7 linked regions of the Homo sapiens genome follow. The protein of the gene in region 5 purifies or fractionates together with the protein of the main gene of each other region. This does not show direct contact. Each region holds a gene or a part of one and is shown on either strand. Other genes may lie near its edges. The genes, in order: SHTN1, EIF3E, NDFIP1, PRRC2B, SLC45A3, HDLBP and MAP1B.

Evidence for each region.
Region 1: the proteins of SLC45A3 (region 5) and SHTN1 purify together in Homo sapiens (affinity purification with mass spectrometry; one large-scale study listed by BioGRID and IntAct). This does not show direct contact.
Region 2: the proteins of SLC45A3 (region 5) and EIF3E purify together in Homo sapiens (affinity purification with mass spectrometry; one large-scale study listed by BioGRID and IntAct). This does not show direct contact.
Region 3: the proteins of SLC45A3 (region 5) and NDFIP1 purify together in Homo sapiens (affinity purification with mass spectrometry; one large-scale study listed by BioGRID and IntAct). This does not show direct contact.
Region 4: the proteins of SLC45A3 (region 5) and PRRC2B purify together in Homo sapiens (affinity purification with mass spectrometry; one large-scale study listed by BioGRID and IntAct). This does not show direct contact.
Region 6: the proteins of SLC45A3 (region 5) and HDLBP purify together in Homo sapiens (affinity purification with mass spectrometry; one large-scale study listed by BioGRID and IntAct). This does not show direct contact.
Region 7: the proteins of SLC45A3 (region 5) and MAP1B purify together in Homo sapiens (affinity purification with mass spectrometry; one large-scale study listed by BioGRID and IntAct). This does not show direct contact.

Annotation. Positions count from the first base shown.
Region 1 is NC_000010.11:116,995,188-116,998,687, reverse strand, and holds part of SHTN1 (shootin-1), read left to right. Parts: intron 1-3,500. UniProt on the Homo sapiens protein: Involved in the generation of internal asymmetric signals required for neuronal polarization and neurite outgrowth.
Region 2 is NC_000008.11:108,224,718-108,228,217, reverse strand, and holds part of EIF3E (eukaryotic translation initiation factor 3 subunit E), read left to right. Parts: intron 1-3,500. UniProt on the Homo sapiens protein: Component of the eukaryotic translation initiation factor 3 (eIF-3) complex, which is required for several steps in the initiation of protein synthesis.
Region 3 is NC_000005.10:142,136,279-142,139,778, reverse strand, and holds part of NDFIP1 (NEDD4 family-interacting protein 1), read right to left. Parts: intron 2,046-3,500; coding exon 1,921-2,045; intron 1-1,920. UniProt on the Homo sapiens protein: Activates HECT domain-containing E3 ubiquitin-protein ligases, including NEDD4 and ITCH, and consequently modulates the stability of their targets. As a result, controls many cellular processes.
Region 4 is NC_000009.12:131,400,586-131,404,085, reverse strand, and holds part of PRRC2B (protein PRRC2B), read right to left. Parts: intron 1-3,500.
Region 5 is NC_000001.11:205,677,710-205,681,924, forward strand, and holds the start of SLC45A3 (solute carrier family 45 member 3), read right to left. Parts: upstream 2,801-4,215; 5' UTR 2,685-2,800; exon of another isoform or gene 2,661-2,684; intron 1-2,660. UniProt on the Homo sapiens protein: Proton-associated sucrose transporter. May be able to transport also glucose and fructose.
Region 6 is NC_000002.12:241,239,173-241,242,672, forward strand, and holds part of HDLBP (vigilin), read right to left. Parts: coding exon 3,288-3,500; intron 1,137-3,287; exon of another isoform or gene 951-1,136; coding exon 729-950; exon of another isoform or gene 649-728; coding exon 430-648; exon of another isoform or gene 330-429; coding exon of another isoform or gene 219-329; intron 1-218. UniProt on the Homo sapiens protein: Appears to play a role in cell sterol metabolism. It may function to protect cells from over-accumulation of cholesterol.
Region 7 is NC_000005.10:72,187,475-72,190,974, reverse strand, and holds part of MAP1B (microtubule-associated protein 1B), read right to left. Parts: intron 1-3,500. UniProt on the Homo sapiens protein: Facilitates tyrosination of alpha-tubulin in neuronal microtubules. Phosphorylated MAP1B is required for proper microtubule dynamics and plays a role in the cytoskeletal changes that accompany neuronal differentiation and neurite extension.

The sequences.
Region 1 (3,500 bases), on a different chromosome or scaffold from region 5:
GATAAGCTGACATTGATGGAGATACTGTAGTCCCTGCTTACCCATGGAGGAAGCTATGTTTCAACACCTGCAGTAGGTGCCTGAAATCATGGATAATAACAAACCCTATATATTCCAAGTTTTTTCCTGTGCATACGTATCTGTGATAAAGTTTAATTTATAAGTTAGGCACAATAAGAGATAATAAAAACTCATAATAAAATAGAACAATTATAACAATATACTGTAATAAGAGTTATGTGAATGTGGTCTCTCTCTCTCTCTCTCAAAATATCTTGTGGTACTGTAGTCATCTATTTTCATACCATGTTGACCATGGGTAACTGAAACCCTGAAGAGTGAAACGGTAGATAAGAGGGAAACTACTGTCTGTCAGAGACACAAGAGCCGATGGAAAGAACATCCAATGTCCAAAGACGGAACTCTGAACAACAGAATATTGGATTATAATTCAAAATTTGAAGTAATATTCATGAGTTGATACTGATATAAATAAATGATTAAAGACAAATCTCCCATGCAGAGCAATTCCAAATAATTTATGTAGATGTTCCCCCTCAAAGCGGTGTATCTTAACTCCCTGATTCTTTTTTTTTGAGACAGAGTCTCGCTCTGTCCCCCAGGCTGAAGTGCCGAGGCATGAGCTCTGCTCACTGCAAGCTCCGCCTCCCAGGTTCACACCATTCTCCTGCCTCTGCCTCCCGAGTAGCTGGGACTACAGGCGCCCGCCACCATGCCTGACTAATTTTATGTATTTTTAGTAGAGACAGTGTTTCACCGTGTTAGCCAGGATGGTTTCGGTCTCCTGACCTCGTGATCCACCCGCCTCAGCCTCCCAAAGTGCTGGGTTTACAGGCGTGAGCCATCGCGCCTGGCCCTAACTCCCTGATTCTTAAGTGTGGGCAGCACATAGTGAATTCCTGCCAAAGACTACAATATGGAAAAGGGGGAACCAGTAACTTTACAGTGGAGAAACCTGACAAACACTATGTCAGCTAGATGATCAAGGCCAACATCAACAATGATGATAGCATGATAGTGTGATGTGATGAATTGGCGTTTTACCTCTGTGGTCTTCCCCTAAAAACCCATAAAGCCAGTCGACTCATGAGGAAAATATCAGCAAATCCCTATTGAGAGACGTTCTGCAGAATACCTGATCAGCACTTCTCCCAACTGTCAAGGTCATAAAAATGAGTAAAGTCTGAGAAACTGTCATAGTCAAGAGATGCCTTAAGGATTGAAGGGTAGAAAAAATAATCTGTCCCTCAAACCTTGTAAGTTCATAATTGGGACAGATACCTGTAACAAAAGACATGAACAAGCAAGTTTATTAATGCATGCAGTGCACATCGCAAGGGAGAAAAATAAGCAGTGGCTCAACATACTGTCTTCAACAAAGAACTATACATTTAGAAAAGTGTTAGGACAAAGGAAAGCAGTTCCAGGCTTCCAAAGGCAGGAGAATGTGGGAAGGTGAGTTTATGGGGAAACTCCTGGGGTAAAGTCTACTCGCAGATTTCTCTGCCACCATCTCTGAGGTGATATGGGTTGTAAAGGAGAATGGGTATCTTGTTTTTAGGTGGGAAATGGGGAGAAGATAGACCTCTTGTCTTTGTAATTCTGTGTCCTGCTTTTAGGCAGACAGAGGGAAGGCAGATAGTTTCCTTCATCCTAATTATCTTTAGCTCGAAGGTCTTTCATATTTTGGGGAGATAGGCTGGTTTCCTTCAGTTCTCCCCTTTGAAACTTTACTTTCAGAAAGTCTCACATATTATGTGCTAGGCTGGTAGCTTTGGAGAGGTATGGTTGTAGATAAGTGATTGGCAAAGGGGAAGAAAACCAGATTGGAACCAGCAGAAAAGAACAGATTTAAGTATATTGTCTCATATCTTATTGAGTCAGTCTCTTAGTCCTGAGACTAGGTTAGTTTAGGTAAACAGTCATGTTTTATTTCAAGAGGTGGTGTTATGGGTGATCTCTTTAATGTTAGGTTTCTATATGTATAAGCATACAAATACTTAATAAGAGACATTTCTATGAAAAAAAAGGAAAAGCAAGGTTAATGTTTAGAGCAGTCTATAAATTAGTTTCTGAGTCTGGAGAGCAGCCAGTTGAGAGGATTTATAAATCTTAGGCTCAAAGTGTCTTCAGCTGGAGTGGGGCAGGCAATTGCAATCTGACAGATTTTCCTTGTTTGTAGTTTAAATATCATAAAGGTTGTCGATACAAAAGCTGTTGTGGTGATTTCTCTTATGTTTGTATCAAGTTGTCCAGCTTTAGCTTGCATAGCTTCAGAAAAAGCCCAATTTTAATTTCAGTGATTCCAGGTCAAAGGGTGGGAGAAAAATTGGAAATGTTAGTTTGGAGACTCACAGCCAGGTATCAGAAAAAACTAAAAGAATTTAGGATCCATTCCAGATTGCAGGTAGTTAATAAAATCTCAAAAACAATGAACAGGGCTAGAATCTAGTAATGGGTGAACTATAGTTTCTGAACTATTATTTTTCTGAAAATATTTTTCCTCTCTCACACTAATTTCTACCAAAAAGAATCAGTAAGACCAGTTTATTTGTAAAATAAGTTTTTGTCTATTATACTTGGCCTAATTATTTACATAAATGCAGCAAAAATAGTGATTGACTATGTAAGCCCTTTTAAAATCTGCTTTGCTGGAACTCTTCATAAGGAATCTCGGATTAGGCTTACAAAAATGCCTCCTTAGGCTAAGAAGCCAAGCTTAGGACTCAACATCAGATTGTGCCTATAGTAGTCTTAGATAGATAGCTCTCTTCCCTAGATTCCTGATGTTCCTGGGCCTGTCAGGAAGGTGACATTCTTTACCCTATAAGGCAACCATTTGAACCATGTATTCAAGGTACGAGGCCAGTATTTCCAAGGTGCCTTTATTGGCCCCATTAAACTGAGGTTCCTCTAGGGACCTCAGTTCCCAAAAACTGGTCATATCAGAAAATACGACATTCTCATCAAACTTTGGCAATATAACCAGTATTTTCAATTGTATCCTATTAAAAGAAGAACGGATTCTTCCTGAACTTATGCAAATGCCTATATTATCCTAAAAATAAGAATACTCATGAATAGTTTCCAAATTTTGGAGGGATCAAGTAAGGAAGAAAAGTAAATGTTTCAATTCTATTTGCAAAAGTATACTTTACCAAATTGTCTTAAGCCATAGATAGCGCAAAAGAAGAAAATGTTTTCCTAAATCTGGAAAATAAAAGAATCAGTAGTGTTTCTAATAAAGTCCTAAAAATCACAGTCCCTCATCATGTTAGTCCCATGTAATTAATTCTTAATTTTGCTCGATGTTAGCAATTTTAGGAGTTCAGTTTCTCCTTTAGATTTCTGGAGTTCATACCTAGTCCACTGGTATTTCCTTAAAGTTATCAGAGACCTGTACAGGTCAGAGTTCTTTTTGTTCTTCCCATATACCTCCTTGAAGACCCAAAACTTTAGGATTATAATTGCTTGCAAAA
Region 2 (3,500 bases), on a different chromosome or scaffold from region 5:
GGAGTTGTTTAAACTTAAAATATACTTTTTTCTATCATTTGAATTTGTTGTCACCTGTTTTTTTTTTTCTTCATGTAGTAGATTTGCTTGTTACTGAAAAGTATGCATGTGACTCTTAAGTAAACTATTTGACAGAGTGTACCCTAAGCCTTTTAAAGTGCTATTTAAAGTGTGGTCCCTGGGCCAGCAGCATAGAAATCATATAGAATCTCAGGACTCACCCTAGAACTAAATTAGAATCTGCATTTTAATAAGATCCCAGGTAACTCATGTAAACATCAAAGCTTTAGAAATGAGGCTCTAGGGCATACTACTTGAAAGGAATACGTGCATCTTTTTATATCATCTTTGCTCTGTCAACTAGCTTTTGTTTAATATTTTGGTGATGAGAAATTCACTGCTTATGAACTAGACCATTCTTTTGTAAGCTAGAAATTATTTGTAAAATTTACTCTTCCAGTGGAACTCAAATACCTCTGAAACTTCTGCCCATTATTTCTTGTTTGTTTGGAATGACAGAAAACAAGACTGCTTCATGGAAACTCTTTAGATGTTTTAAGATAATTTTTTACTCCTCTCTGCTTCCTTCAGGCTAAATATCTCTAGTTTTATTAAGTAACACAGTTTTTCAGACCCTTTAGTATTTTGATTGCCTTTTTAGATAATTTCTATTCATATTCTTACAATCTAGATGTTCATAATTGAAATTTTATTCTAGGATTGTCATCTAAACTTTATAGATTACAGTGGCAATATTAGCTCATGTTACTTGTATGTATGCTTTTACTAATATAGCCTAAGATTGCAGTAGCAATTTTAGCAGTTGCTTCATGGTATGAGTTATATTGTATTGACTATATTATTGGGCAAATTTTACAATAACACTTTTTTTTTTAGATAATGTCTGGCTGTGTTGCCCAGACTGGAGTGCAGCGGCATTATCTTGCCTGACTGCAGCCTCTACCTCCCAGGCTCAAGCCATCCTCCCCCGTCAGCCTCCCAAGTAGCTGGGACTACAGGCACATGCCACCATGCCTGGCTAATTTTTCTATTTTTTGTAAGACAGGGTTTCACCGTGTTGTGCAGGCTGGTCTCAAACTCCTGAGCTCAAGCAGTTCTCCTACCTCAGCCTCCCAAAGTGCTGAGATTACAGGCATGAGCCACTGGGCCCAGCCCTACATTAACAGTCTTAGTTCATACTTTTACTATTTGTTCATCTAAATGAAGATTTTATAGTTTCATTACATTTTATCTTGTAGAAATGAAAATGGTTTCATATGACAAATGAAATAATAAGAATTCTAAATCATTAGGAAATACTATATACTTGGCTGATATCCTCCAAAATCTGAAATACCCTGTGTGGCATTATCAGATCAGTTAACTGAGGGAGGAATCATGGGGGGTTTTGCTTTGTTTTTAAATGATTCCATTAACAGGATTATGGGTCCTGATGAATGTATTGGTCAGTATTTAAAAAGTGTGTGCATATGGGAATATATCCTAACTTTGTGGGGCAAAAAATCCCTTATTTGAACATCCAGTAAAGCCTTCCTCCTCAAACATTAAAGTTAGATAGATATACACTGAAAAGCCATTGGATATTTGGAAGGAAGAGAAAAATGATATTAAAATTATATTTGGGAGTATTTTTACCAGCCAGTGCTTCTTAAACATTTTGGTCTTGGAACCCGTTTACACTGTTAAGAATTATTGAATGTAGGCCGGGCGCAGTGGCTTACGCCTGTAATTTCAGCACTTTGGAAGGCCGAGGTGGGTGGATCACCTGAGGTCAGGAGTTCGAGACCAGCCATGGTCAACGTGGTGAAACTCCATCTCTACTAAAAATACAAAAAATTAGCCCCACGTGGTGGTAGGCACCTGTAATCCCAGCTACTCAGAAGGCTGAGGAAGGTGAATTGCTTGAGTTTGGGAGGTGGAGGTTGCAGTGAGCCTAGATCACACCATTGCACTCCAGCCTAGGCAACAAGAGTGAAGCTCCGTCTCAAAAAAAAAAAAAAAAAAAGAATTATTGAATGTAATTTTCTTTGCATTGGTTTTATCTCTTGGTGTATACAGTAAGTCCTCAATATTGTCTCTAGGTTCTTGGAAACTGCATCTCTAAGCAAAACAATGAATAATGAAACAATTTTCTTTCTCAACAGCTTCATAATGAAAGAATGTTACTTGGTTTTAAAGTCGTAGTTTCCAAGAAGGTACCGATTATGTTAAGGACTTAACTGTATTAAAAATCAAAACAAATTAAAAATTTTCTCATTAATAAATGGTAAATTGATTCAATTTAACACATAATAGAATTTTAACGAAAGTAACTTTGAAAACAAAATTAGTGAGAAGAGTGACATTGCTTTACATTTTTGCAGACCTTCAGTTGCTGGGTTAATTGACAACTGGGTTTTCATGCCTGCTTTCTTGCAGTCTGTTGTGATGTGCTTTAACTGTAGGATGAAAAACCTAGCTTCACACATGTAGTTGGAAAAGAAAGGTGTGTTTTATTAATAATATCCTTTTCCGATAATTGTGAATATTCTTTTTTGAAGATACAGTAAAATTCAGTAAGAAGTACAGATAAAATAAAACTCAACAAGAAATAGTTTTTAAAAGGTTGTTTGTAATGTAGAATCTGAAACCATGTGGTTAAACTTTTTGGGATCCTAAGCTGTACTGGTATTCTAGACTGTATTGAGCTATCTTGCACTTGGAATGGATCTTTTTTACCCATGCATGATTTTATAGTATCATTCATTGGTTGTTTGGGAAATACTTACTGGTCCAGTGAGTTATGCAGGTATTCCAGTGTGTTGACATTATACAACACCAGAAAAACCACATTCATGAACATCACTACCAGACCCATAGAAACGGGTTTAAGCATTGGAAAGCTTTCAAGCTCCCAGTGGCTGATACAAATTTTCCAAAATTCTAGTTTTTCTTGAAAGCTCTAATTTTATCATTTGTTTTTCTTGAAGGACAGGCTCACTTCATTTTCTAGAAAATGTCTGGCAAATTCCCAAGTCTGAATGTCTGAATAGCTTTAGTTTGTCTGCCATTCTTTCAAGTAAAAACAGTGTTCTGTGAGAAAAGCAGCTGGTTCATCTTGTTTCTCAGTTGCACAAGTGCTTTTCCTTAAGGACAGCCGTGACAGTGAAGTGTGTATACAGCAGAAGCACTTTATGAATACTTACCATTTAGTCATACAGAAGACTAGAAAGATTAGTACTTAAGGGTTGAAGTTTTTAAAAATTAATTTGGGCTACGTGATTCAAGGACATAGTTGAAACTTTTTGTGTGTTTTTTAAAACTGCAAAAGTGTGGTGGTGAAAAATATAGGGACTGCTAGTATAGTTTGATGCCACTGCTTTGATTTACTCTAAAGTACAAGAAGAATTTGTTTGTTTATAGTTTAGTAATTTTTAGTAACTTAACTGAGTGATATAACCATCACAAGTCAGTTTTAGAACATTTTTATTGCCCCAGTA
Region 3 (3,500 bases), on a different chromosome or scaffold from region 5:
CCTGAGTAGATGATACCATTGCCTTCTTTCTAATGAGGCCTGATTTTCTTCCTACTCCTCCAGCCTTGTCTTGACTTTGGAAGCTTTATCATGTATACCAGGGTAATCCCCTTCCCTTGCTGGTTTAGGAATGGGCACAGGATGCCATTCTGACCAGTGGAAATTGAGGGCTTCTGAGAAGCTTTCCTTGCTTCTCAAAGAAAAAAACAGTTCTTTCTAAAGGTGGTAGAAAATTTTTTTTTAAATAGTTCTTTTTCTTCTCTTGAGCACTGTCGTGTTTCAATGTAATACTGATACGTGAAACTGCCATCTTTTAACCCTGAGGGGAGGGGGGACCTGTGCCAATATGCTGATATGTCAGCTGTCCTTGATGATGTCAAAGAACCACTGACTTAACTAACCTTGTCAGGGACTTGTTTTCAGGGGAAATAAAATTTCCCCGTTTAAAAAAACAATTAAAAATTTTTTTCTAAGCCATTTTGAGCTAGGTTTTTGTTACTCACAGTCAAAAGCATCCTACCTGATACAAGTTAATTCATTTAACTTTTTTTTTTTTTTTGAGAAGGAGTCTCGCTCTGTCGCCCAGGCTGGAGTGCAGTGGCACGATCTCGGCTCACTGTAAGCTCCACCTCCTGGGTTCACGCCATTCTCCTTCCTCAGCCTCCCGAGTAGCTGGGACTACAGGCCCCCGCTACCATGTCTGGCTATTTTTTTTGTATTTTTTTAGTAGAGACGGGGTTTCACCATGTTAGCCAGGATGGTCTCGATCTCCTGACTTCGTGATCTGTCCGCCTCGGCCTCCCAAAGTGCTGGGATTACAGGCGTGAGCCACCGCACCCGGCCCATTTGATTCACTTTTTAAATGCAGTTGAAAATTTAGTTTGAAAAAAAAAAAAGACTGGAATTAATTTTATTTCTCTTTTCCTTGGAGGCTTTGGTGTCCAAGAGTTTAATGTAGTTCGAAAAGTAAAATATAGTATTTTCTTTGTTAATAAAGTAACAATTAAAATTTAGGGAAGGAATGAAAACCTCTTTAGGGCTCGAGTTCTTAACCTAAAGTCCATTATTATAGATGAGTACATATTAGCTATGTGGGGGAAAAGCTTACAACTTTCATCAGATTCCCAAAGGATTCTGGAACCCTAAAAACGTTAACAAATGTTTTATAATAAATAAGGTGGCACTACGTAGAAAAACTACAGTGGTCAAGCAACACCCATTAGTTAGTTAAGTATGCCAATTTATGACGGATAAATTGGTTTTGTTTATAAGGTTGACGATAGCAATAAATTTATCTGAAATCAGAGGATACTTTAAAAGCCTAGATCTTTTACAACTGTAAATTACTTCATGCAAATTTAACTAACTGGTAACTCTGAAGTCACTAAAGACATACATCTCTGTAATTTACTTGAGAGGTAGGCTCCTAATGGAGCAATACTTGTTAAACAGTTTTGGCTCCCCAAACATTTTGGCATAAGCAATCCTGGAAGGGAGAGGGGAAGAGAAGGAGAAAAGAAAAGAAGGAAGAAGAGAGCTAGATTAAAACTGTAACAGAATTAATGAGAGGAATGGCTGCTTTTGATGAGATATCAAAGGGGTAATATCCTTCCTTTTATTATAAAAACAACTAATTTCAGAACATATACATTATCATATTATAAACATTAAAAACAAACAAAGCAGATGGTGAACAATATTAATGATAGACCAGTTTTCAATAGATTTGACAACAAAACTTGTGTGCATGAACCATTTGCAAATGATTTTGGTTCAGCTTCATCATGAAACCACAGACAAACCAAAAATCATTTAACACACTGAAATAACTTTTAAAAAAGCAAATGAAAAATCGAATATTCAAAAATATTCTGATTATTGCCTCTCTGTAGAGCCCATCTTTTCTGTTATACAACTTACCCTGACAATCAGGATCCATTTAATTAGAGAGAGACCAAATCCTGAAATGGCCCCATACCTTCCTGCAGCTGAAGTGGTCAGGCAAAAAGACAGGAAAAACCCAATCCAGTTAAAGAGGAATGCCACTGCAAAAGCAGAGGAGGGGAAAGATGTTAGACATGTCCTGTTACCCAAGAACAAGAGTGCCTTACACCTGCCTCTGTTTAAATGACTTTCCAAAGGATAAAAGACAGCCTGTCCTCCACAACCGTCACCATACCTCCTCTAAAACATCCATTCTTCTGTCTTTCCCCAAAAAGCAAACAAGAAAAACTCCTCCCTATCAGGTTTTACACACTTATGTCTACTGCTAGTCACTTTCAAAAACGCCTTAATAGGCTGAGCACAATAGCTCACATCTGTAATCCTAGCACTTTGGGAGGCCAACGTTGGAGGATCCCGAGCCCAGCAGTTTGAGACCAGCCTGAGCACCACAGTGAGACCCATCTCTACAAAAACTGAAAAAAACAAAACAAACAAACAAACAAACAAAAGCCGGGCACAGTGGTGCACACCTGCAAGTCCCAGCTACTTGGGAGGCTGAGGTGGGGGGATCACTTGAGCCCAGGAAGTCAAGGGTACACTGAGAAGTGATCACACCACTGCACTCCAAATTCAGCCTGGGCAACAGAGCAAGACCTTGTCTCAAAAGGAAAAAGCAAAAAAAACAAAAAACAGCAAAAAGCAAACCTTAACATTCACCAAACTGTATACTTACAACCTCTGCTTTTTTTTTTTTTTTTTTTTTTGAGACTGAGTCTCACTCTGTCACCCAGGCTGGAGTGCAGTAGCACGACCTTGGCTCACTGCAATCTCTGCCTCCCAGGTTCAAGTGATTCTCCTGCCTCAGCCTCCCGAGTGGCTGGGACTATAGGCGTGCACCGCCAGGCCCGGCTAACGGCTAATTTTTGTTTTTAGTAGAGATGGGGTTTCTCCATGTTGGCCAGGTTGGTCTTGAACCTCTAGCCCCAGGTGATTCGCCCACCTCAGCCTTCCAAAGTGCTGGGATTACAGGCATGAGCCACTGTGCCCAGCCTTTGACCTCTTTTTTTTTTTTTTTTTTTGAGACGAAGTCTCACTCTTGTCCCCCAGGCTAGAGTGCAATGGTGCGATCTCACCTCACGGCAACCTCTGCCTCCCGGGTTCAATCGATTCTCCTGCCTCAGCCTCCTGAGTAGCTGGGATTACAGGTGCCTGCCACCACACCCAGCTAATTTTTGTATTTTTAGTAGAGATGGGGTTTCACCATGGTGGCCAGGCTGGTCTCGAACTCCTGACCTCAGGGCATCTGCCTGCCTCGGCCTCCCAAAGTGCTGGGATTATAGGCATGAGCCACCATGCCCAGCCTGACCTCTGCTTTTTACTGTGTGTGTTATATATATATAGTCCAGTAAATAAAATAAATGCCTTCAACATTAAATAAGTGCCCCCAAATAATCTGATTCAAGTCACTCATCCTCCTGTTCTCTGAATTTTGACAACTTATATAACATCACCTCTAAAAGCATTGCATTTTCTTATCTTTCTAATACAACAAATAA
Region 4 (3,500 bases), on a different chromosome or scaffold from region 5:
AAAATGGCTGGGTGTGGTGGCTTACACCTGTAATCCTAGCACTTTCAGAGGCCAAGATGGGAAGACAGCTTGAGGCCAGGAGTTCAAGACAAGCTTGGTCAACATAGCGAGACCCACCCCCACATCCCTAAGGAAGAAAAAAAAAGTATTACTGAAAATAAAAATAAGAGAAGTTACGCTTAAAAATACGTATGGAAAAATACTGTGATATTTTGAAAATGCCAAGTTGCAATACAATATAGTATATCCCATTTTTGTTTTTTAAAAAACCTCCCTACATGAGGCCATATTTATACGTGCACTGAGCCTAGAAGGATAAACAAAGCAAATTTATCAATAATGGTTACTGCCTGGGACATTGGGGAAAAGCTTTCATTTCTCTTCAAACACTTGGCTTTTAATTTTGTTTTTTTTTTTTTTTTTAAAGTATGGGCCAGGCGCAGTGGCTCACGCCTGTAATTCTAGCATTTTGGGAGGCTGAGGTGGACAGATGGCCTGAGCTCAGGAGTTTGCGACCAGCCTGGGCAACAAGGCGAAACCCCATCTCTACTAAAATACAAAAAAAAATTAGCCAGGCGTGGCGGGATGCACCTGTACTCCCAGCTACTCAAGAGGCTGAGGCAGGGGAATTGCTTGAACCTGGGAGGTGGAGGTTGCAGTGAGCCGAGATCATGCCACTGCACTCCGGCCTGGGCAACAGAGCAAGACTCCACCTCAAAAAAAAATAAATAAATAAATAAAATAACCTGTATACTTCTGCAATTAACATTTTACCAAAAACAAACAAACAAACAAAAAACCAGAAAATACCACATTATGATTCAGGACACTATCCTCTTCCCAAGGACTTCTGAACACTTGGCCCATTCAGTCCACCGACAGGTCGGTTGGGCAGGCAGGCAGGAGTGATGATGCCCCTCCCAGACAGGCCTGTGCTTTCTGCCCTGGCCTGGAACACAGCTGTTCTTTAAGCTCTGAACCATATGTAAACAACACCTGCCGAAAAAAGTTCTGCAAGACACAAAGGACCCATGGAAAGAGTCCTGGAGATGACCTCCTTTTTCCAGTAGGTCCTGCAGCGATCCATCCCATGGTTCTATACAAAGAGATGATCCTGAAGCGTGTCGGGAAGTTGACGCCGGCTTCCCGGAGGCACAGTCATTCTCTGCCCTCCTCCCTGCTGGCCACTGGCCATACAAGAATGCTTGCATAATGTTCACCATTCAAAGGGCCTCGGCACTCTCTGGAAAGCAGGCTGACCCACAAGTTCTCTTCTGGGACCCATACATTTCTGATTTCCACATAGGAACACATTTTTAATGTTCCAGGGCTCAGCACACTATTTTCAATAGGTGCTTATTTCGAGTCAGCTACATTTTCCAGAATGCCTTCCCTGACTGCCCCACACCCAGACTGAGGTGAGCTTGGTTTCTGCGTGGGCTCCTATAAGACCCCCTTCTCAGACACCTGGCACACAGTGATGAATGGGAAACAACAGAATTCTGCTTCCGGATGCATTTACTCACTCCACTGGGGGAAAGGACCATTCAATACATGAAAACAAAACTATCTACAGGCTGCTGCCCGTCGCTGAATGAATAAATAAAATGTGGTAGATACATGCAAATAAGAGAATATTATTCTGCCTTAAGAATGAAGTTAGTTCTGACACATGCTGCAACATGGATGAACCTTGGAAATACTATGCTAAAAATAAGCCAGACACAAAATGACAAATACTGGATGATCTCACTTACATGAGGTACTTAAGAGTATTCGGTTTCACAGAAAGAAAGTAAAATGGTTGGCAGGGCAAGGTGGCTCAACATTGCCACCATGGGATTACACATGGCTGTAATTCCAGCACTCTGGGAAGCCGAGGCAGGCAAATCGCTTGAGCTCAGGAGTTCGAGACCAGCCTGGCCAACATGGCGAAACTCCGTTTCTCCTAAAAATACAAAAATTAGCCAGACCTGTAATCCCAGCTATTCAGGAGGCTGAGGCAGGAGAATCGCTTGAACCCGGGAGGTAGAGGTGCAGTGAGCCGAGATCGTGCCATTGCACTCCAGCCTGGGAGACATAACGAGACTCTGTCTCAAAAATAATAACAATAATACAAAAATTAGACCAAGCACAGTGGCTCACGCCTGTAATCCCAGCACTTTGGGAAGTCGAGGTGGGCAGATCACCTGAAGTCAGGGGTTCGAGACCAGCCTGGCCAACATGGTGAAACCCCGTCTCCACTAAAAATACAAAAATTAGCTGGGCATGGTGGCAGGCGCTTGTAATCCCAGCTACTCGGGAGGCTGAGGCAGGAGAATCTCTTAAACCCAGGAAGCAGAGGCTGCAGTGAGCCGAGATCGCGCCATTGCACTCCAGCCTGGGCAACATCAAAACTCTGTCTCAATAAAATAAAATAAAATATACAAAAACTAGGCCAGGCACGGTGGCTCATGCCGGTAATCCCAGCACTTTGGGAGGCTGAGGTAAGCAAACCACTTAAGGCCAGGAGTTCGACACCAGACTAGCCAACATGGTGAAACCCCGTCTCTACAAAAAAATACAAAAATTAGCTGGGTGTGGTGGCGTGTGCCTGTAATCCCAGCTACACAAGAGGCTGAGGTTGCAGTGAGCCAAGATCGTGCCACTGCACTCCAGCCTGGGCGACAGTGAGACCCTATCTCAAAAAAAAAAAAAAAAGGAGAAAGAATGGTAAGAATGGTGGCCGCCGCCACTGGATGGGGGAGGGGAGTTGGCATCTAATGGGAACAGAGTTTCAGTTTGGGAAGATGAGAACGTTCTGGAGATGGATGGTGGTGATGGTTGCACAACACTGTGAAAGTGCTTCACGCCACTCAACTGTACACTTAAAAATGGTAAATTTTATGTTATGTATACTTCACCACAATTTTTAAAATTCAAATAAAGAAAAAAACACCTATTTACAAGTTGTGAAAACTGCTATAAAGAGAAACTGTAGGGGGCTCCGAAGAAATCACAGGAGGCTGAGGCAGGAGAATCGCTTGAACCCGAGAGGTAGAGGTTGCAGTGAGCCAAGATCGCGCCATTGCTCTCCAGCCTAGGCAACAAGAGCAAAACTCCGTCTCAAAAAAAAAAAAAAAGAAAGAAAGAAACCACAAGAGGATGAGGCCAAAGTTAGGTGGGGGGCTCTCCAGGGCCTCCTCCCCACCAGACCAGGATCTCCCCAGGAGTCAATGGGGCATCCATGTCCCTAGAAACAAAAACTGTTTAAGACAAAAGGCTTCTCCAGGTTCAAACCAGTAAATGGAGTAAGACCTCAAGCCCCACTCATCAAAGGGCTTAACCAGGACTGAGACCCCCCAGAACCTAGTGGCTCATGAAAGAGGCTGCCTTGCTGGGTGCCGTGGCTCATGCCTGTAATCCCAGCACTTTGATAGGCGGAGGCGGAGGGATCACTTGAGTCCAGGAGTCTGAAACAGCCTGGGTGTCCAGGCACGGTGGCTCACACCTGTCATCCC
Region 5 (4,215 bases):
AGGCTAGGCACTGCTGTCCATTCAGTCCCAAATGATCGATACAATATATAGTTGGTACTAACATTTATTGAGCACTTATGTGTCAGACACACAGTTTAGTATTCTATATACAATATTTAATAAAGCTATAATTTTTAGACTATATATAACGTAATTATATGTTTATAAATTTTATGTCTGTTATAATCTACTTAACAAAGCTATACAGTAAGTATTATCATTCCCATTTTGCAGCCAGGGATACTGAGGCTTGGACGAGGTTATGTAACTTGCCAAGCTGGTGGAGCTCACCTAGTGAAGCAGCCAATATAGAAACTTTCTTTCTGGCCGGGTGCGGTGGCTCACACCTGTAATCCCAGCACTTTGGGAGGCTGAGGCGGGTGGATCACCTGAGGTCAGGAGTTCAAGACAAGCCTGGCCAACATGGTAAAACCCTGTATCTACTAAAAATACAAAAATTAGCCAGGCATGGTGGTGGGTGCCTGTAATCCCAGCTACTTGGGAGGCTGAGGGAGGAGAATCACTTGAACCCAGGAGGCGGAGGCTGCAGTGAGCTGAGATCGTGACATTGCACTCCAGCCTGGGCAACAAGAGTGAAACTTCGTCTAAAAAAAGAAACTATCTTTCTGACAGTCTGGGTTTTTATCCATGTTGACTTATCAGGCTGTGACGTCCAGATGATAGTACTTAAAGTCTTCAAGTTAACTTTACTTTGAATCTTCAGACCAGCCCTGCCCAGGCTGAGAGCTCCAGTCTGGGTAAGGGGAGAGCTGGAGAGAGGCCTCCACTATCCCTCCACCACCCAGTGGCCTGGAATGGGCTCAGGAGACCACCAGGGATCACTGTCTACTCCTCCTCCTCCTTCAACGTTATTCAGGGAGCCAGGAGGGATGGGGAAGTTCACCACACACTCCATGAATACATAGGAAAACTCCCCCTAACACACACCCACTAAATTGGGGCCTGTCTGTCCACAGCTGTACATTCATCCACAGCTGTATTTTTATCTTCAAACTCATTCTGCTGACTCAAGCTGCATTTTCTGAGCACTTTCAGAACAACAGAGTCCTGGCTCCACGACAGGCCTGGTGGGAGGAGATAAGGGAGGAATGAGGGAATGGGACTGATCCAACAGAATGGCCTGCGACCTCAAATTGCGTCCCACTTATCCCCTACAATATGCTGCTCTATGGGTTTCCTCAGGCTTCCCGTCTAGCCTGGGCCTCCTGGGCCCTCCCACTCCCACCCCAATAGGCCAGCCTGTTTCCCAGGCCTCGGGCAGGTGAGTCTACACCAAGGCGGTCTCTGCTCTGAAAGGAGATCTGCTAAGTGCCTCAGGAAAGGTAGTCCGAAGCCCCTAGGACCTCAACCCCACCCCTGAGCAAAGGTTCCAGGACCCCAGCAAGGGTCACTGCGGGCCCTGGTCAACTGGCAATGCCCGGCTGCAGACTCCAGGGCAGCAAGACAGCAGCTGGGCTATTCTTAGTCCCTGCTCCACCGGGACCGGGTCTGTGTAACAGCTGAAGGGCGAGTCCTCACCAGGTACCCACCATGCCAAACCCCTCCCTACCCCCAACTCTGGCCCCTTGGAAAAAGAGGAAGCATAGGGAACACGCCCTGGAGTGGGGAAAAGCTGAGCAGGTCAAGAGTGTCTGTCAGGAAGATGGAGGCTGATTCAGAGGTCAAGGGCAAGAGCAACTCACAGGACTGCAGTGCCTGGGGGGAGCGGAAGACTACAGGAAGGCCTGACCCGCACTAGGGAGAAAGCATGCAGGTCCCTGGGGCTTTTCTAGCAAGCCTGCCTAGGCCCAGAGCTCTGAGAAGCTGCACGGGATGCCTAGGTACCACCACATCACACCTGTTTGCCGTTTGCAGAACTCTGTCCTTCCCCACCTGAGACCTGGGAGGCGAGGAGAAAACAGCGGCCTTTCTCTCCCCACAGAGGGGGAAACTGAGGCTGAAAAGGGGACACAGTAACACACACACACACACACACACACACACACACACACACACGGTCCAGTCCCAACTCTGTACCCAGAGCTCGCCCCAGTTCTAAGTCCAAGAGGGCTCAGTCCCCTTTCCCTGTCTTAATAACTCACTCTTCCTCAAGAAAGCCGGCCTGGGCCTGAGCACCCCGCGGCGCCGCGGCCGTCGGCTCCCGTCCCGGCTCCCCCAAGTCCCGGACTGTGCGCGCCGCAGTGACTCATCCTGCCCCTTTCCGGTGAAGCCCAGACAAGAGAAGAAAATAAACGCAACTTTCCAAAGAAAAGTCTGACACGGGAGGCTGCAACAGGAGCCAGCGGCCGGTCCGCCAGCCGTCGGCCCGGCCCGGTCCGGCCCGGCCCGGGGCTCCGGGGAGGGGCCGCTCCCCGCCCACACCGCCGCCCCGCCTGGGACAGCGCGGGCACCTCCTGCCTGCCCGCCCTCCGCGGAAGAAAGCACAGCTCAGCGGGGACCCGTGCAGGCGCCGGGCACTCGGCACCCGCCCCGGCAGAGCGTGTGGGACGCGCCCTCCTCTGGGATTCGCGCGGGGCTCGGCGCGCAGCGCCCCGGACGGCCACGGCGCAGCCCCATCCCGCGGGGCGCAAAACACGCGACAGCGCGGAGCTCGGCCGTGCACTGCTGCTCCCTTTCCCGCGCCGGGACCCTCACCCCTGGGAGAGGAGGGGGCGCGCTCCTACCTGGCCGAGGCGCGCGGCTGTCACCCGGAGCCAGCGCGTGCAGGCTGGTTCCGCCCCCCCTTCCTTGCCCCCCACGCGCGCCAGCCGGCGGCTTTTAAATCTCCAGGTTACTCCGCGGGGGGAGAGAGCATGCGCGCTGGGACTGCCAGGAGGGGGGCGGGGCGAGGCGGGACGGAGGTGGGGGGTGCTGCGAGGGGGGATAGAGGGGTGGGGCTGGTACCCAGGGGAAGAAAGCGGGAGGTCTCGAAGCTGGCTTTGTAGCCGCGCCGCGACGGGCAGCCCCCGCGTGGCTCCCAGACTGCCCTATCATTACCTAGGGCAGGGCACCGCCCCCTCTGTCGCTCGCCACCAAACATTTAGGTGAAAGCTACCCGGCTTCGCGGGGCACCTCCCCTCCCCTACTCGGAGCCAGTCTGCTGCGACCATTACCCAGGCGTGCCATTCTGGCCACCCGATCTCCAGGCAGAGCTGCTCCCTACCTGTCCAGGACCATCCCTTCAAAGGAGATGTCACATTCTCTCCGAATTACCCTTCTGCTCTTTGCTATTCTCCGACGCAGACAGAGCTAACTCAATCCCTCTTTCTGCGCTGAAAACCAAATTCCAATTTTTTTTCTTCTTAAGAGTGTGTACGGGGAAGAATGGATGATAAATTGCCAATGAAATGTTCTCTTTGTCAGCTGTTGAGCAAGGTCCGAACAGATACCTGTTCCAGAATGTCTTTGATGGAGTCCCAGGCTGGCCCTGGGGTTGGGGGTTGGGGGGCAGTTTTGTCTTTTTTTCCTCCATGGAGTTTTATTGGGTGGAGAGAAATCCAATTTAGTTGGATTGTTGACTTGAATACTACAAAGTCCCAGGAAGATGCCTTCGAAGGGGAAGACCTGGTTGGCCTTAGCCAACCAGGCACTGGGGCACTGGGTTCCAATGCTGGCCCTGTGTCAACAGCCGTATAACGTGGGCCAAGTCCCTTCCATGTTCTGGGCCTCTGTAAGAGGGGGTGAGCCAAATGATTTCTAAGGGCACCTTCCAGCTGAGAGGTAGAAGGAGGCAGAGAAGAAAGGGAGATAGAGAAGGGAGAGGAAATAGTGGCGCCCTGGTGGTAGTGGGGAACAGAGAGCAGGTGCCAGAGAGAGTTGAGAAGAGAAAAATCAAGAATCTACCTTCTGAGTCACTAAACAAGTTTAACTTGAAAACTGTCTCAGCGTTGCCTCCCTGGAGCAGACACACCTCTACCTGGGGACCCTCCTGGAGATGGCTTTCCAAAGTCTTTGGCATACCCTCTCGTGGCAAGCAGAGAGACTAGGGTGGAGTCCAGGGTCTCTGAGCTGGTGTCCCCTCTCCTCCAGGAAAGAGGTCAGGAGTCAGGGGAAATTTCAGGTCAGCTGGAAAATTACAGAGCCAGGAGAGAGTGGACGGTGGTATTTTGCAGGCTTGGGAAAGAACACTGGGAACATGAGAGAGTTGTCGCACCACAGACAAGTAAGAGCCCCCCTCTTCCTCCTGCCTCCCACCACTTCTTTCCAGGGGCCCTT
Region 6 (3,500 bases), on a different chromosome or scaffold from region 5:
AGACCACGTCTTCTCATGACTTCCCATGGATTCACGTGGATGCCCTCAAATCGATTTTCTTTCCTTCACAGAGGGGAGAAGAGAGCTGACCCCTTAGACTGCATTTTCATTTTTCCTGATCCCTTATACAGAATGCATTTTCTTTCTTTCTCTTGCTTTCTTTCCTCTCTCTCTCTCCCCTCTCCTCTTCTCCTTCTCTCTCTCTTTTTTTTTTTAAGTGCTTCTCGCAGGCAGAATTCTCACCAACTATCAGGAAGGAGGCCAGACAGGCTGAGGAAAGAAGAGCGAGCACCAGAAAGCCCCTTCTGAAGCCTTCCAGGGCTGTATGAGGGAGTCACCTCCCTACAGGGTGGAGCGAACACTCATACACGGCTTCGGTGAGTGGCCACTGGGGGGTGAGAACCCCTCCCCGAGCACCCAAGTGCCTACCAGGTCCTCAATGATCTCCTGAATGCGTTTCTTGGCTGCCTCCACACAGTCCTTGGCGCCCTTGAGGGTGACTTTGTCGCTCTGTGTGCCAGAGCGTGGGAAGCTGACCATCACCCCGCCATACTCTTCAGCAATCTCCCGCAAGACCTGGCCTCTGCGGATGACGAAGTGGCGGTGGTGCTTGGGGTCCACCAGCATGGAGTCTTCCACCACATTATCCTGCAGTGTTAAGAAGAGATGGAAGATAAGCCACCCCATCACGGCCCCAGCAGAGTCGGCCGCCGAGGCCCGCTCCCTACCAGGTTTTGGATCAAGGCCTCCAGCTCCTTCTGTGCCTCTCGGACGGCGTCCTCCTTTCCAATGATGGTGATCAGGTCCTGGTCCTTGTCCTCAGCCGCAGGGAAGATGACACGTGCTCCAGTGCTGTCGCGCACCTTGCGAATTTTGCCGCCCCCCTTGCCGATGAGGAATTTGTGGTATTCTGGCTTGGCGCGGATGTCAACAGTGAAACTCTTGGTTTGCTGCAGAAACCAATCCCACTGTGTTAGCCTGACACCACGTGCCTGGACCACAGTGAGGAAGACAAGAGGGTCTGTAGGACAGCAAGCTCGGGCTCCCCTTACATTGTCACCAGTGTCCTGATGTTGCACCAATACCCCCAAAATGGGGCTAGCACACCTCACTGAATAAACAGATGAATACCCAGACTGCACACCTACTTCTCTTCCACAACAACCAGATGCTGGTGGGATGAACACACAGGCTTAGAACCCTGGTCCTGCCACTTACAAGCACTGACCAAACTTCTCCAAGCCATTTTTGATCTGCACAGGGGGAGGTGGGAGCAACGCGCCGGACGATATGTTGGCGGAGTGCACGTCCTGGGGAGCGTGGGGTGTGCCCAGCAGAGCAGGAAGCAAGCTGCCCAAGAGGTGTGCACCATGCTCCCACTCTTCTACCTGCTTCCAGACCAAGCACACACAAATCTGGGCCAGGCTCCCTTTCTTCCCACGAGTGCTACAGATCAGCCTCCACAAAACCAGCCACTCCCCAGGCTCAAGCTCAAGCTCAGAGGGACACAAGCCAACCAAGGCTACAGTTAGAGACCGGTCCTCAGAGGCCTCGTGTAGTGCGACGCCCTTGTGTGGCAGTAAGAAAACGAGGGTCCTGGAAAGGCCCCGGACACTGCTTGTGGACACCAGTGCTTCTGGCAGACCCACGCAGGGGCCCCGAGAAGGGCGCTGCTCCACGGGACTCAGGTCCACACGGGGAGCTCTTGCCTTTCTCCGGACCCAAGATCTGGCCCGCAAGCAAAAATACCAAAGAAAAACATGCTAGCACAAAAATATTAAATAACAACTTTGCTACCTTTTAAGTGCAGGTTTCACCAAATACCACCTAGAGACTCTGCTACTTTTCAAAGACATCCACAAATAGCAGCATTAGTCAAACATTAGGCAATCAATTAGGCAAATGCAATCTAGCAATATGGCCAAAGACAACCTACCAAACCAAGCAGGGATTACCCCAGAAACGCAAGGCTGGTTAAACACAAAGACAAAAACATCAATCTAATAACAACAACAAAAAAGACAAGAAATACAAGGCTCCAGATTAGAGAGAAATGTAACTGTCCACAGACCACGTGATTGTGACATATAAAATAAGGATCCACAAAACAGTGGGCCGGGCGCAGTGGCTCACGCCTGTAATCCCAGCACTTTGGGAGGCCGAGGCGGGCGGATCACGAGGTCAGGAGATCGAGACCATCCTAGCTAACACTGTGAAACCCCATCTCTACTAAAAATACAAAAAATTAGCTGGGTGAGGTGTCGGGCGCCTGTGGTCCCAGCTACTCGGGAGGCTGAGGCAGGAGAATGGCGTGAACCCAGGAGGCGGAGCTTGCAGTGAGGCGAGATTGCGCCACTACACTCCAGCCTGGGCGACAGAGCAAGACTCCGTCTCAAAAAAAAAAAAAAAAAAAAAAAAAAAAAAAAAAAAATCCACAAAACAGTGACTGGCGCTAATATACATGAGCTTTATTTAGCAGCCTCGTGAAGGTCAACATACAAAAACCACAGGCACTTCCATGTGCTAACAACTGGAAATGGAAAAAAAGTGCCATTTACAATAGCACTAAAAGAGTAACAGTAGTTAGATCTGTTAAGTCGAACATAAAAATGTGCTAAAAATTATAAAACACCAATAAAGAATCACAGACCTAAAAAAAATGGAGAAATGCCTGCAAAAGTCAAAACTGCTGAGCTGTCAATCCTCGCCAGTCTCATCTTCAAATTTCACACAATCCCAATCAAAACGTGAAAGTGCTTTTTTCCTACAAATTGACAGGCTGATCAGCAAGGGGTGTAGAACAGCCAAAGTTAAGAGGGCTCACACTACTGATTTCCAGACTTCCCATAAACCTGGTGTCACCAGAAGAGCCCGGAAACATACCCACAGATGGGTTTTGACACAAGGACAACAGCAATTCCATGGGCAATCTTTAGGGGTGATGGAAAATGAATTTTGATGATTGTGGTCACATGACTGCATGTTACTTAAAACTCAACTATACCTGAAGAATGGCCAATTTTACTGTAAATCATATTTAAAAAACAAAAGCACCCCAAAACTAATAAGCCAAAGACCAACTTTTATATATTGCATATGTGAGCGTTTGGACCTGGAAAGGCCCTCCAGTAACAGCAAAAACAAAGACGCATAAACAGTACATTATAGAGCTGTTTTCTGACCCGCCACAAAGGAAGGGCATTCAGGGGTTTCCACAGTGAGAAGCGAGAACACTGTACTGAGGACCAGGCTTCCTGCCAAGAGTCACGCTCCCTCCCCATGCTCACCTTCTCCTCCGCCAGATGCAGGAGCTGCTTCTTGGCCTTCTCCACATCCGAGGAAGGGCCCCTGATAACAACGGTGTCGCTTCCTGAACCTTCCACGGGAAAGTGAATGTGGACCCCGCCGCACTCCTCCATGATGGAGCGGATCAGACGGCCCTTGGTGCCAATGAGGGAGTTGTGCAGCTTGGCAGGGATGGAGACCTCTACCTCGGCTAT
Region 7 (3,500 bases), on a different chromosome or scaffold from region 5:
TGCAGGCATACTGGAAGAGGAAGGAAGATGTAAGAAATAAATGGTTTTACTGCAGATGAGATTAATGAAACAAGATTTGAATTTCTAAACCATGGCCTACGAACTACATTTCCTTTTTGATTAGGTTACTTGCTTGGCTGATGAGGAAATACAGTAGACAGTGTATCTCTGGGTTTTAGCCAGACATTTAATAGGACCCCTGAACAGTGTGATAGTAGAATTAGGTGGATTTCCAGCCAGCCATATAAATAGTGCTGCTTAATGTCAACCTGGAGGGAGGTCTATGATGGGCTGCCTCAAGTCTCATTTTCTGGCCTGTATTCACTTGGATAAAAATGGCGAAGGCATGCATATCATATTTGTGCATGGTATGAAAATGGGAGACACAGCAAAATGTGGAATGGCAGAATTAAGGTATTTATAAAAGCTCTTGACATTGGGATGATGGTGGCTAAGTCAATTCTAACAGGATGGCATTCTAAAGGGATAAATGTAAGGTTCAATAAACCAGCAGGGTAAACTACAGGATTGGGAGATGTGGCTTAACAATAATATCCATGGAAAAGACTCAGGGATTTTAGTTGACAGTCAAATGGATTTATCATGAAGCCAAAGAAGCTTAAACTTCAAGGTACCTCATTGGCATGGCCCTGTACTTAACTGTATATTAATAATTGTTTCATTTTTCTTAAAAAAGAGCCCTTAAATTATATAAATTGTCGAGCCCCTCAAAGCCTGCATCTCTTCCCCATTGACTTCCCCATTGACCATTAATGGTGTATGGTGATGGTCAAAAGTCACTTTTAGACTTCTTTAATAGAAGATGGTATTGAAAACTATAGACATTATCAACTCTCACAATCCTAACCTGGTCAAATGACTCCTGAATAGGGTGTCCAGTTTGAGTCATGACATTTTAGAGAAATTAGACCAACAAGCAAAAACCTGAAACAAGTCTCCCTTACTGGCTCCTTCCTCTTGGCCTTATGACCTGTCAACACTGGACCTGGGCCCTTTCTCTTCTTAAAATGTTTCTCACTCTAGGTCACATCATGTGTCTTCTGGGCTTCAAATACCTCTAATATGCTAATGGATTTCAAATTAGTATCTCCAGCCCGACTCTGAGTTCCCTGAGCTCTGTTCTCATAAATCCAACTGTCTGATTTCAAGGCACTAAAACATGACCAGGACTAAACTCCTGAATTCCCCCCATACCCATCCCATCTCCTCTTCTTTTTATTTTATTTTTTTAATGTTTTAAGTATAGTTTTTTTTTTTTTAAGAGACAGAATCTTGCTCTGTTGCCCAGGTTGGAGTGCAGTGCAGATTATAACTGAGTGCAACCTAGAACTCCTAGCCGCACGTGATCCTCCCACTCTGGCCTCCCAAAGTACTGGGATTACAGGCATGGGCCATAGCACCTGGCCTTCACCTCCCTTTCTTGACAGAGGAACAAGTTTGAAGGACAGTGAGCAGGGTTATGAAGAACTGTGGGTAAAACTGAAGATGATTAATCTGAAAGGGAAAAAATCGGCAGTGTTGGTGAAGGGTAACTAAGACACTGTAGGTGGGAAAGGGATCACATCACTTCCTTGAAGATACAATGAGACAAATAAGGAAAAACTTTCCAACACAGAGACTGAAAAATGTCCCCAGGAGATGATGATTTCACCATCCCTGGATTTCAGGGAGGAGTGGGGTTAGCCAGACAATTGTACCGTCTGTTAGTTCTGGTTTTGTTAATTGATCTCCAGTGATTAAGACTCCAAAACCTGAAGCTCAAAGTGTACTGATAGTTCTATTTTTTCAGTCCATTTATTTTTAGCTGTTCTTATATTTTTTAAAAAGTATCATTTTTGTTTGTCCCAAATTGTGGTTTTGGTTTCCCTGGAGTTAACTAGTATGTTTCAAGGACTGGATAAAAGGAAAAGAGCTGGACAACAAGTGGTCTTCAAGGTCCGTTTGTTATTCAGTTACTCAACCATTTTTCCAAGGCAACAATGGGCAATCCTAGCTCCAAAAGGCTGATAACCACTGGTCCAGTCCAGTGGTTTTCAATTCACTTTAGCTGTGGCATCCTTTCTTTGTGGGTGGCAGAAGAGAATATGACATGGTCTCTGACCATAATGATACCTGCCTGAGTATAATCAAAATATGTGTCCTCCAGAACCTACCCCAATAAGTATAAACCCTGGGGAATCTGCCCTTCCACGGAACTCGAGTTCTTCAGTTAGGGCAAATTTTTTTTTCTGTAATTAGTGGCAAAATCTGACACGTGCACAGTCCATGGTGCTAAAATTTTGCTTCCATAATCTAGTAAAAATGATTAAGCAGCAATATTCATAACAACCTTATTTAAAGAAGGGGAAGGAGGGATATTATTTGAGATGCAAATATGCCAAATCGTGTTACTTCCTTATTGAAAATCTTGGCAATGACACTTTTCTTTACATATTTCCTTTGTCTGGTTTTTCGGCAAAAAAGACAAACCAATGACTTGGGTAGAAACCAACCACTAGAAAATAACTACAGAACTGCACAGGAATGTGGAAAGTGCCCATGTGCATGCAAATGAGCTATAAGCAGGCCACTTAACTGCTCACCATGTCATTGGGCCACTTCCAGCCTTCTGCAGCTTTCTCTCTTCCCTGAGGCAAGATGCTAATAATGTGTGTGACCCCAGAGCTACTAGACAAATGCCCACCTGCCTCCGGGTACAACATGCACATGGGGACATAATCTTGCAAAACATTCTGACATTATAGTGATCAAACAACAACTTCAGGACAGTAGGCAGAGTGAGAATTGTAGCCCTAGCTTTGGAATTTCAATGCAATTGAACAGCGGCTTACTAGGCCTTTACTATGTGCAGGTGCAATGGATACCGAGATGAATGAGGCAAGATGCGTGAACTCTAGCGGCCTTGGAAGAAGACACAGCCAAAGCTTGCATTTTGAAGTGGTAAAGATGAACCAACTGTGAGTGAGCTCTGAAGCCTCTGAGAAAGGAGCTGCCTGCCTGGGGGATCCCATCCTGGTATGTGTTTCAAGATGCAGATGACGCCACACCTTCTGACAGCTGTGGCTTCAAAAATGTTCCTTTTCACAGTTTTACATTCTCCCCACCCCAGTGGCTGGAGAGTGAACATTATTATGCCTTCTGATCAGTGTTTTTAAAGAAGCCTCCAGGTGACTCAGATGAAGTTGGGCAGTGTGCTTACAGTTCTTGCCAGTGATGAAAAGTACAAACAGAGCTTTCTCTGAACCTCAGGGCCAAGGAAAATTAAGTGCAGAAGGACACGTGGCCCTTCACAGTACACATGAGACAGACAAGCCACCACCTCAGAAAGACAGTTTTAAACAGATGTGGGGACTCTTCTTATCAGAACATCCCTCAGTCCCTCCATGTAGAAATCTGCTATCGGCCACAGGCAGGCCCCAACCTGCTATGGGGATGGGTCTGAATTGTTTCTGTAATTGCTATAAACATGTAAGCTAGAT